Linked DNA regions of Homo sapiens. The protein of the gene in region 1 purifies or fractionates together with the protein of each later gene. This does not show direct contact. Each region holds a gene or a part of one and is shown in the gene's direction. Other genes may lie near its edges.

Evidence for each region.
Region 2: the proteins of CAND1 (region 1) and HNRNPR purify together in Homo sapiens (affinity purification with mass spectrometry; 2 studies listed by BioGRID and IntAct, with this or other methods). This does not show direct contact.
Region 3: the proteins of CAND1 (region 1) and SERBP1 purify together in Homo sapiens (affinity purification with mass spectrometry; 2 studies listed by BioGRID and IntAct, with this or other methods). This does not show direct contact.

Annotation. Positions count from the first base shown.
Region 1 is NC_000012.12:67,314,340-67,318,092, forward strand, and holds part of CAND1 (cullin-associated NEDD8-dissociated protein 1), read left to right. Parts: 3' UTR 1-3,753. UniProt on the Homo sapiens protein: Key assembly factor of SCF (SKP1-CUL1-F-box protein) E3 ubiquitin ligase complexes that promotes the exchange of the substrate-recognition F-box subunit in SCF complexes, thereby playing a key role in the cellular repertoire of SCF complexes.
Region 2 is NC_000001.11:23,323,608-23,327,360, reverse strand, and holds part of HNRNPR (heterogeneous nuclear ribonucleoprotein R), read left to right. Parts: intron 1-3,628; coding exon 3,629-3,753. UniProt on the Homo sapiens protein: Component of ribonucleosomes, which are complexes of at least 20 other different heterogeneous nuclear ribonucleoproteins (hnRNP). hnRNP play an important role in processing of precursor mRNA in the nucleus.
Region 3 is NC_000001.11:67,416,662-67,420,414, reverse strand, and holds part of SERBP1 (SERPINE1 mRNA-binding protein 1), read left to right. Parts: intron 1-228; coding exon 229-406; intron 407-3,753. UniProt on the Homo sapiens protein: Ribosome-binding protein that promotes ribosome hibernation, a process during which ribosomes are stabilized in an inactive state and preserved from proteasomal degradation.

The DNA of each region.
Region 1 (3,753 bases):
GATTAACAGCTTGATTTTGAATGTTCAGATGATAATGCAGAAGACATCACTTCTAGTAAGGATTTTGACTAGTGCATTGATGTTGAAGTTGGTGCCATTTCAAAATGTGGCAGGTGATAATCTTTTACCATAATTTGCATAAAACTGTAATAGAAGTTTATTTTGAGATGTTAGTATATTATGTACTATGCATTTCTGTGGTATAGATGTTGTGGATATATTTAAGTATTTGGTTACATGGTTTTACAATAAATTACAATACTGCAGGCTCTAGGACTGAACAGGAGACTGACATGCATATGTTGTGTGAATGTCTTAGTTGGGTAAAGTTAAATCCAAATACTTCAACTGGCTTTTTCTTCAGTTTGTTTGTTTTTAACTTTCAAGATGCATGTTTTGTTTTGTTTTGCTTTGTTTTTGTCTCTTAAGCCAATTCATTTTTCTAACAGTTGAAATTCTTTTAGTACTAAAGAAATAGATACTGCTCTTTTATGGCTTTAGTGTTTATATACCTGTTTATATGCATACATTAACAAAATTAGTAACAGCAGTGCTTAGAATTTCAATGCTGTGTCATACTGATGATTAACTCCATACTCCTAGTGGTGATGTGGTCCAGATACTGGAATGGAAGTGGCAGGATGTGGAGTCCAGACATAGTCTACCACTCATGCTACTTACTAGTAATATTAAGGTGTTAAACTTAGGAATTTGTCACATGTAGGTTCCTGAGGAGATCTAAAAGTTAATACAAAACCAAGCTGTTTACTGATTTTCATGAGAACATTTAAGTTAGTTTAGGTCTACCTGATTTATTTTAAAAGAAGGCAGAGGGCTGGACGCAGTGGCTTACGCCTGTAATCCCAGCACTTTGGGAGGCCGAGGCGGGCGGATCACGAGGTCAGGAGATCGAGACTATCCTGGCTAACACTGTGAAAACCCATCTCTACTGAAAATACAAAAAATTAGCTGGGCGTGGTGGCAGACGCCTGTAGTCCTAGCTGCTACAGCTGAGGCAGGAGAATGGCGTGAACCCAGGAGGCGGAGCTGGCAGTGAGCCGAGATCACGCCACTGCACTCTGGCCTGGGCAACAGAGCGAGAGTCTGTCTCAAAAAAAAAAAAAAAAAAAAGGCAGGAAGGAAATTTGGTATGGCAGGGCCTAACCTAAAAGGTTATTTATAAAATCAATAGCACTGAATGATAATTTTTTTAATGACAGTCATGTATTTTATTAATGATATCTGAAAGCTGCTTAACCATTAGGAATTACAATTCTTTATGGTTGGAGTATGATGATTTCATCAAATGTTTGAATATTTACATAATTTTTATGTAACCATAATTAAACCAAATTAGTCTTTTTTTCTTCATACTTTTCTTCGGTAAATAGTGAAGAAATAATGGGCATATCTAATTAACCAGTTCTAGTGGGTGTTGTGATATCTTTATATCTAGTTCAGTCTCAGATGTATGAATATGATTATATAGTCATGATTGAAGTTCAAAATGAGGAAGTATACAAAATCCTCAGCCACTGAAAAATTCAGTTAACTTGTTTATACTCCTGTAAGCTCTAGTTAGTCACAAGACAAAGTATATAGTAACACTTTGTAATGAAGTAACATTTTCTGCCCACATTAATTTTACTAAAGACCTAAATTGTTAAAATTAATTGCCAATCTCTGGATATATTATGCTTAGTAAGTGTTTTGAAATTAAAGACCTTAAACATTTCAGCAAGTAAATTTTGGATTCTAGCTCTGTTTTAAATTGAATCCTAATTTTCAAACCACTGCTACCCCAGATTCATACCTGTTTTTGAAATCTTGTTTATGGAATGGAAAATTGACAGTATGGTAATAGTTTATTGACTGATTGGACAAAGGATATTCTGGTTTTAACTGACTTTTCCATTTAAATAAAATTCATTTGATAATTTTGGTTGCAAAAGTGGAACACAGTGGAAGTATTTGGCTACAGGCTACCCAAATCTCATCAGATAAGGCTGTTTTCTTAAAGGAAATGCAAAATGAAATCATATGTTTTCCTTTTCCAATACAGTAAATTGCTTGTTTTCCTATGAATATCAGAAAAGATTTTGTAAACACCTTTGCTGTAGTTTCAGGCAAGATCTTTCAGCAACATGTTTTTGCTCTTTGTAACTTAGAAAGTTAGCTCTGAATCCAAAAACTACTGAAGTGAGTAATGCATATAATTTTACTTTTTTGGACCCTATAATGCCAGTGTGTCAGGTTTCAGAATGATATTTAGTAGACAGAAATACCTAATTTTGTTTTGGAATCTTAATACCCTGTCCTCTTCATAACTTTCTAGTGGTGATTTTAGCAAGTTTAATTATTTTGCTGAGGTCTTAGAAGACAGAAAGCTTATGCTATGTAAAGTGACATTGTTTCCAGATTAGGAAGTATTGGAATTAATTTGCTATTGCCAGTAAGTAATGGTTGATGGATATTAAGTGATTTTAGTCTAGAATGCTCTCAAAAAAATAGTAAAGAATTGTACTTCAGGGCCAGATGGCAGCTCACGCCTGTAATCTCAGCACTTTGGGAGGCCAAGGTGGGGGATCACTTGAAGACAGGAGTTGGAGACCAGCTCTAGGCAACATAGTGAGACCCTGTCTCTACCAAAAAGAAGAAAAAAGAAATCAACAACATGCAACCATAAGAATGGATGAGATGGCCCTAAAAGAATAAGGATTACATATAATGAGAAGACGTGTGGGCTGAAATACCTAGTGAACAATATTTAAGGGAAACTGAAGTGCAAATGGCCTCACAGGTTTGTTTTTGTGTTTAAGACAAGGTCTCACTCTGTTGCCTGGACTGGAGTACATAGCACGAACATGGTTTACTGCACCTCAGCTTCCTGGGCACAAGTGATTCTCCCACCTCAGCCTCCCGAGTAGCTGGGAGTATAGGTGTGTGCCACCACGTCCAGCTAATTTTTTTATTTCCTTGTGGAGATGGGGTCTCATGACCTTGTCCAGGATGATCTCAAACTCCTGGGCTCAAGCAATCCTGTGTTGGCCTCCTAAACTGCTGAGATTATTGCAAGTGCCTCCTTGCCCAGCCACATGTTGTTGATTTCTTTTTTCTTTTTTTTTCTTTCTTAATTTTTTTTTTTTTTTTTTTTTTTGAGATTGATGGAGTCTTGCTTTGTCTCCCAGGCTGGAGTGCAGTGGCGCAATATCGGCTCACTGCAACCTCTGCCTCCCGGGTTCTAGCTATTCTCCTGCCTCAGCCTCCCAAGTAGCTGTGATTACAGGCGTGTGCCACCATGCCCAGCTAATTTTTGTATTTTTAGTAGAGATGGAGTTTTGCCATGTTGGCCAGGCTGGTTTCAAACTCCTGATCTTAGGTGATACACCCGCCTCGGCCTCCCAAAGTGCTGGGATTACAGGCGTGAGCCACGTCCCCCAGCCAGTTTCTTAATCTATACATCTAGCCCAGTCCATGCCCCTGTTTCAGACTATTATATCCAACCACCTGCTATACATCTCATAAAGGTATCTCAAACACAGCATATCTAAAGCTGAAGTCATCATCTTGCCCTGGTTTTTCCTGTCTCTTTGCTGATGGCATCCCATTTACCCAGTCATTCAAACTGGAAATCTAAAAGCCTCACTTAGCAAGAGTTTGGAGGCAGAATATGATAAAGAACAAGGACTCTGGGAGGCCAAGGCAGGTGGATTGCTTGAGGTCAAGAGTTCGAGACCAGTCTGGCCAACATGG
Region 2 (3,753 bases), on another chromosome or scaffold:
CATGAATGCCTAGACCTTGTCTGTGGTAGTCACTATATTTCTAGAATCTAGAAAAATATATGGCACATGAGTCCAAGGTATATCTAATTACTTGTCTCTTGAAAGATTTGTATTATACAAGTTCTGAGTAGGGTGGGAGCCATGTGTTTGTATAGGCTAGGCATTTACGTGGAGCAACTTCAAGCAGATACTTTAAAGATTAATTGGATATGGGTGGTAATGGGAGGAATTGAAAACATCTGAGATGTCTGTTTATGGAAGTAGTTCCTCAGTCACCTGGAGGTGGGGGCTAGGAGGGGAGAGAAACAGAAATTATATTCTTCTAAAGGTAGACGGGGGCAATCAGAGGAGCCAGTTGACAAGGCTGGGTTTTAATCATTTTGATTTTTAGAAAAAATCATTTGTTACAAACATGTCTTCATCATAGATTTCAAGGTATAAAGATGAGATTGGTATTCTGAATACTTCAGGTAAGAAAAGGTTTTGACGGTGGTAGTTGCATCACCAGTGTTAATACTTGTAGAGAAGGCAAGGATGATGAGAACTGAGGGGGAAAAATACTTTTATTTTTCTTCCTGAGACAGTTTCACTCTTGTCACCCAGGCTGGGGTGCAATGGCGCGATCTCAGCTCGCTGCAACCTCCGCCTCTCAGGTTCAAGCAATTATCCTGCCTCAGCCTCCCGAGTGGCTGGAATTACAGGTGCCTGCCACCATGCCTGGCCAATTTTTGTATTTTTAGTAGAGATGGGGTTTCACCATGTTGGCCAGGCTGGTCTTGAACTCCTGACCTCAAGTATTCCGCCCGTCTCAGCCTCCCAAAGTGCTGGGATTACAGGCATAAGTCACTGTGCCCGGCCTGGAAAAAGACTTGAATTTGGTTATTAGAAGTTTATTAGTGACATCTGGGTATACAGCTCGAGTTAGAGGAAGAAGCCAATTATAGAGGGTTAAAGAGAACATAGATGCTGTGTGCTTTTCTCAGTATGTTTTTGTTACAAAGATTGTTCTGCAGGGACATCACTTAAATCACATATAACAGTATCTTGTATCCCTAGTTGTGATGATGCCATAGATGTCTTGTTTCTACTTCTCTTTGGCTTCACGGTATTAAGCATGTAGTAGATGTGTTGAAAATAATAACTGTGTGAGTAAAAAAAAAAACGTACGGATGGCGTGTTCAAAACAGGCCGGGCGCAGTGGCTCACACCTGTAATCCCAGTACTTTGGAGGGCCAAGAAAGGAACAGGAAGATCACTTGAGTCCAGGAGTTTGAGACCACCCTGAGCATCATAGTGAGAGCCTCTCTCTTCCCCCAACCGCCACCCCCAGATATTAGCTGGGCATAGTGGCAAGAGCCTCTGGTCCCAGCTACTTGAGAGGCTGAGGTGGGAGGATTACTTGAGTCTGGGAGTGTGAGGATATAGTGAGCCATGATCATGCCACTGCGCTGCAGCCTGGGCGACAAGGTGAGACCCTGTCTCAAAAACAAACCAAACATTTATCAGTGAAAGGAAATAAATATAATACAATCTAAAGTAAGGGGTGTTTTGTTGTGTTTTGTTTTTGGATTGTTTGGAGACAGGAAGGAGCCAGTGGGAAGGGAAGGATGGTACTGAGCAAAATATGAGAGTTGAAGGAATAACGATTTGCAGTTATTTCCAGAAAGTGGTAAGAAGAAATGGGCTTATTTATTGTGGCTAAGGAGTTAACCTTAGAAAGGAGGTAGATCTCTTTCTCTGAGGTGCGATAGAAGTGAAAGTAGACATTGTGAGAGGTAAGAATATGAAGAAACCAATGACTTTCTCAGGTGATATCCTTAGAATGAGGTTTAGTGAATGAGGATTGGGGACCTTAAGGAGGTAGAAGAATTGCAATAACTATTGTGTGAGAATCATGCCAAGGAGTCAAAAGAATACCTCAAGTTTTACCAGATAGCAGTGAAAGTGAGTCTTGATTATTTTGGAAAGGATTATCTCTAGATAGTACATCTGTTGTAGAGCTTAACTTCAGAAACTTAATGTCCATAATAATGTCGGCATATTTTGGATTGGATTGCTATTATTACTTCTATATTTACCTATTATTCCAGCTATTTTTCAGACTGTGAAATGGTGATGTAGATGAGTTTCACTAGAAAATTTGTCATGCAAATACTAATTTTACTCATTCAGACTTTGTGGATTACAAATGTTTTAATATAAAATTTTTTGTTTTTTTTTTGAGATGGAGTCTCCCTCTGTTGCCCAGGCTGGAGTGTAGTGGCGCGATCTCGGCTCCCTGCAAGCTCCGCCTCCCGGGTTCATGCCATTCTCCTGCCTCAGCCTCCTGAGTAGCTGGGGCTACAGGCGCCGGCCACCACGCCCGGCTAATTTTTTGTATTTTTAGTAGAGACAGGGTTTCACCATGTTAGCCAGGATGGTCTCGGTCTCCTGACTTCGTGATCCGCCCGCCTCAGCCTCCCAAAGTGCTGGGATTACAGGCGTGAGCCACCGCGCCCGGCCAACATAAAACATTTTTAATGTTGCTTACATTGGAAAAACTTGAAGAAAATTGTAATCTGGTATCAAATGAGGGTTTTTGACTGTATAATTTTTAATTTATCATTGTATATTATAATTTAATCGTATATAATTTTGTAATTAAAGATCACAAATTCTTCAAATGGTGAAGAGGTTTTTTTTCATACCTTAAAATTTAATATTTAATATCTGGATAGAGAGAGGAATAGATTGAAGCACTGGAGTTTCTGAAAAATATTGAGATTGCTTTTTATTTATTTATTTATTTATTTAGAGATGGAGTCTTGCTCTGTTGCCCAGGCTGGAGTGCAGTGGCACGATCTCGGCTCGCTGCAAGCTCCACCTCCCGGGCTCACGCCATTCTCCTGCCTCAGCCTCCCAAGTAGCTGGGAGTACAGGCGCCTGCCACCATGCCCGGAGAATTTTTTGTATTTTTAGTGGAGACGGGGTTTCACCATGTTAGCCAGGATAGTCTCGATCTCCTGACCTTGTGATCCACCCACCTCGGCCTCCCAAAGTGCTGGGATTACAGGCGTGAGCTGCCGCGCCCGGCCGAGGTTGCTTTTTAAGTAGTAAAGATTTTAGAGTTGAGGAGATAACTTGAGGAGAGCTATGTCAATCTTTTATTCAATTATTTTATTTTTATTCATTTTTATTTTTAATTTATAAATTAATTTTTTAATTTTAAATAATAGAAATGGGGTTTTGCCATGTTGCCTAGGCTAGTTTTGAACTCCTAGACTCAAGTGATCCGCCTTCCTTGGCCTCTCAAAGTGCTAGGATTACAGGCGTGAGCTGCTGCGTCCAGCCTCCTTTATTCTGTTTTTATGAGAAAAAGTCAAGTTATAAAAATTTAAAATTTAGAGTAAATACAAATTTTACACTCTTATTAGTTTCCATTTTTCAAGAGACTTGTTCTTTGATAACCCTAAGGTCATTATAATAAAAATTAGGATTAGCTCTGCAAGTCAACTGTAAGTTTCAGATTGTTTCCATTCTTTCTTAACCATCTTCTTCTGCCCCCATCTTTAAAAAAAAAAGGCAGTAGGCTTTATGGCTCTAAAATCAAATGCTTATGTTGGATTCTAATAAGGGGGTTTTATTTCAGGTATTTGTAGGCAAAATACCAAGGGATTTATATGAGGATGAGTTGGTGCCCCTTTTTGAGAAGGCCGGACCCATTTGGGATCTACGTCTTATGATGGATCCACTGTCCGGTCAGAATAGAGGGTA
Region 3 (3,753 bases), on another chromosome or scaffold:
CATAAGTATGAATTCCATATTCCTTACTTGTCTCTAATTAGCAAACACTGAATTCCTGGTCTCTACCAAGTTGCTTAGTTACATAGGAAACTAGGGTACCCTCATCCTTGAATAATCTTTCTCTAAAAGATTACAAGGTTAATTTTCTCAATTAAAATCATAAATTTAAAATACTTTTATGTAATATCAGCTCTCTACCAGGTATAAAACTTGAAAACCTTTTCACAGGGAGAATGAAGTTGAAGAGGTAAAAGAGGAGGGTCCAAAAGAGATGACTTTGGATGAGTGGAAGGCTATTCAAAATAAGGACCGGGCAAAAGTAGAATTTAATATCCGAAAACCAAATGAAGGTGCTGATGGGCAGTGGAAGAAGGGATTTGTTCTTCATAAATCAAAGAGTGAAGAGGTAAAATTAAGTTTTGTCGTGTTTGAAAATGTTCAGATGTGACTTGAATTGTATTTATAATTTTTGTTTTAAAATTTCACATGGGTTATTTGTCTGTTAAAGCTTTACATAGGATCATTTGGGGCAGATAATTTGCTTTATAAGGAAAATAAACTGTATTATCACATATTCTAAGAAATTTAGTCCTTTGATCAATTTGTAATTATGTTTTATGTGGTAGAGTTACTTTTTCCTAAAAAGCTGTTAGTGGAGTATCTTGTAGTTATTGGTGTTCAGAAATATGATAGTTCTTTTCAAAGTTGTGGTTGTATTTTTGAAATCTTGCCAAACTGGGGATCATTAAAGGGCTGTGGTATTATGGTGTTAGGTTGAAATCTTGACATTTTCATATGGTTTAACCTAAAATGTAAGTGACTTCATTTAGAATTCAACTTTTGAAACTGTCTGCCTATACCATATATAATGGCCAGGACACTCAGTAAATGGCAATGTGCATTTTGTCTAAGGAATGACGACTTTAAAAACCAAAGTATATGTGGGTTTTACTTAAGAAACATGGAAACTAGTGAAAATACAGTTGACTTGTTGAACAACATGAGGATGCTAGGGGCACTGACCCCGCAGATCAATGCACATGTAACCTTTGACTCTCCCAAAACTTAACTACTAATAACCTGTTGACTGAAAGTCTTAGTGATAACATAACCAGTTAACACATTTTGTATGTTGCGTATTATATACTGTGTTTTTACAGTAAAGTAAGCTAAAGAAAATGTTGAGAAAATATATTTACTGTTCATTAAGTGGAACTGGATCATCACAAAGGTCTTTATTTTGGATAGGAAGAAAAGGGATTGGGCTTGCTTGTCTCAAGACTGACAGAGGCAGAATGTTCAAAGCCACGTTGTTCAAGGGTCAACTGTATTGGAGAAAGTCACATTGATGGCTTTTGATTTGGTAGCTTCCGTTTAAGCTTTGGGGTGTGTTCTTAGAGGAATGTTTCAGTGCGGCTTCCTGTTTGGCTTTAAAAACTCATACAAGCCCTAACTATATTATTTCTTCTCCTAAATTCATTTTCTCTATCAGCTTCCTTTAACCTTTTGACATTTGTGTTTGATTTATTCATATCATAAATTGGGCTGTGCCAGAAATCCAGACTGAGTTTTATCATCCTAAGGTAAAGTTAAATTAAAATATTGTGAGGGCAAACCCTTTCAATAAGGTATTAGTTATTTTTATTTTTTTTTTTTGAGACAGAATCTGGCTCTGTCGCCCAGGCTGGAATGCAGTGGCACCATCTCTGCTTACCGCAACCTCCACCTCCCGGATTCAAACAGTTCTTGTGTCTCAACCTCCTCAGTAGCTGGGATTACGGACACTCGCCACCATGCCCGGATAATGTTTGTGTTTTTAGTAGAGATGAGGTTTCATCATGTTGGCCAGGCTGGTCTCAAACTCCTGGCCTCAGTGATCCCCGCCTGCCTCAGCCTCCCAAAGTGCTGGGATTATAGGCGTGTGCCACCATGCCCAGCCAATAAGCATAATTTTTTAAACTGCAAAATGGCTATAAGACAAACTTGGAAACATTTTAAAATAAAATGGAGGTTAAAAAGATTAAAAGTTTTTTTAGGTTTAGAGATGATTTTTAACATTTACTTCATATGAGTAGTAAATGAGGACATTGTCTTTTTTAAGTCCTGTAGAAAAAAAACTGCATTAGAACACGTGGTTTCAGCCAGGCGCAGTGGCTCACACCTGTAATCCCAGCACTTTTGGGAGACTGAGGCGGGCGGATCACCTGAGGTCGGGAGTTCAAGACCAGTCTGACCAACATGGAGAAACCCCGTCTCTACTAAAGATACAAAATTAGCCTGGTGTGGTGGTGCATGCCTGTAATCCCAGCTACTCAGGAGGCTGAGGCAGGAGAATCACTTTAACACAGGAGGCAGAGGTTGCAGTGAGCTGAGATCACACCACTGCACTCCAGCCTGGGCAACAGAGCAAGACTGTCTCAAAAAAAAAAAAAAAAAAAAAAAACAACACTTTAACTTTCACATGTCTTCATTCTCGTGACAAATGTGAGGTAGTTAAGGGGAAGGAAGAAACTATTTACAAATGGAGAACTGTGTTACCGTGTTATTGACAGAGCTCAGAGTTTCTGTTTTCTGCTCCTCATTGTCTGAGTGCTCTAGAAAAAAGGTCGGACACAGTGGCTTACACCTGTAATCCCAGCACTTCGGGAGGCTGAGGTGGGCAGATTGTTGAGTTAAAAGTTTGAGACCAGCCTGGGTAACATGGCAAAACCCTGTTTCTACAAAAAATATAAAAATTATCTGGATGTGGTTGCGTGCACCTGTGGTCTCAGTTACCTGGGAGGCTGAGGCGGGAGAGGATCACTTGAGCCCAGGAGGCAGAGGTTGCAGTGAGCCAAGATAGCATCACTGCATTCCAACCTAGTTGACAGAGCAAGACTGTTTCAAAAAAAGGAAAAAAGAAAAAAAAAAAGGATCCCCCTGCCCTGACTTTATCCCAGTACAGTTTCTTGGTATCTGCAGGGGATTCGTTCCAGGACCCAGAGATATTAAAATTTTCAGATGCTCATGTCCATTATATAAAATGGCATAGTATCTGCATATAGCCTAAACACGTTTTCCCTATACTTTATTTTTTATTGTTTCTATTTTTTAATTTAAAATATAGAACAATTTACAGTTTTGCGTGTCATCCTTGTGGGGATCATGCTAATAATCTTTGTATTGTTCCACTTTTAGTATATATGCTGCCAAAGTGAGCACTCCCTCATACACTTTATTTTGAGACAAGGTCTTGCTCTGTCATGTAGGCTGGAATGCAGTAGCATGGTCACAGCTTACTGCAGCCTCAACCTCCCCGTGCTCAAGCGATCCTTCTAGCTCAGCCTCCTGAGTAGCTGGAACTACACACCTGTGCCAACTCCTGGACTCAAGCAGCCCTTCTGCCTATGCCTCCCAGAGTGCTGGGATTACAAGTGTCAGCCACCACACCTGGCCTACTTTTTATTGTTATATGGTTGGTTGGTTTTATTTTTTTCTGAATATTTTCGATCTGTGGTTTGCAATAAATTGAAAGCATTGGTTTGAAATAGCAAACATTTAAAAATCACACAATTAGTATATATAATTGATTCTAATTTGCTGGTGTTTTGTGAATTTGTTTTTATGTTTCTAGCCTCCTTTAAAATTTGTATTAGAACATTCTATTGCCTTACAGTGTGTTGGTTTGGTACAAAGGAGTGACATTTAATACTAGTATGAGTTGATGTAAGGGGTGAAAACATGGATAAAAACACAAAAATTTATTTGTACTTT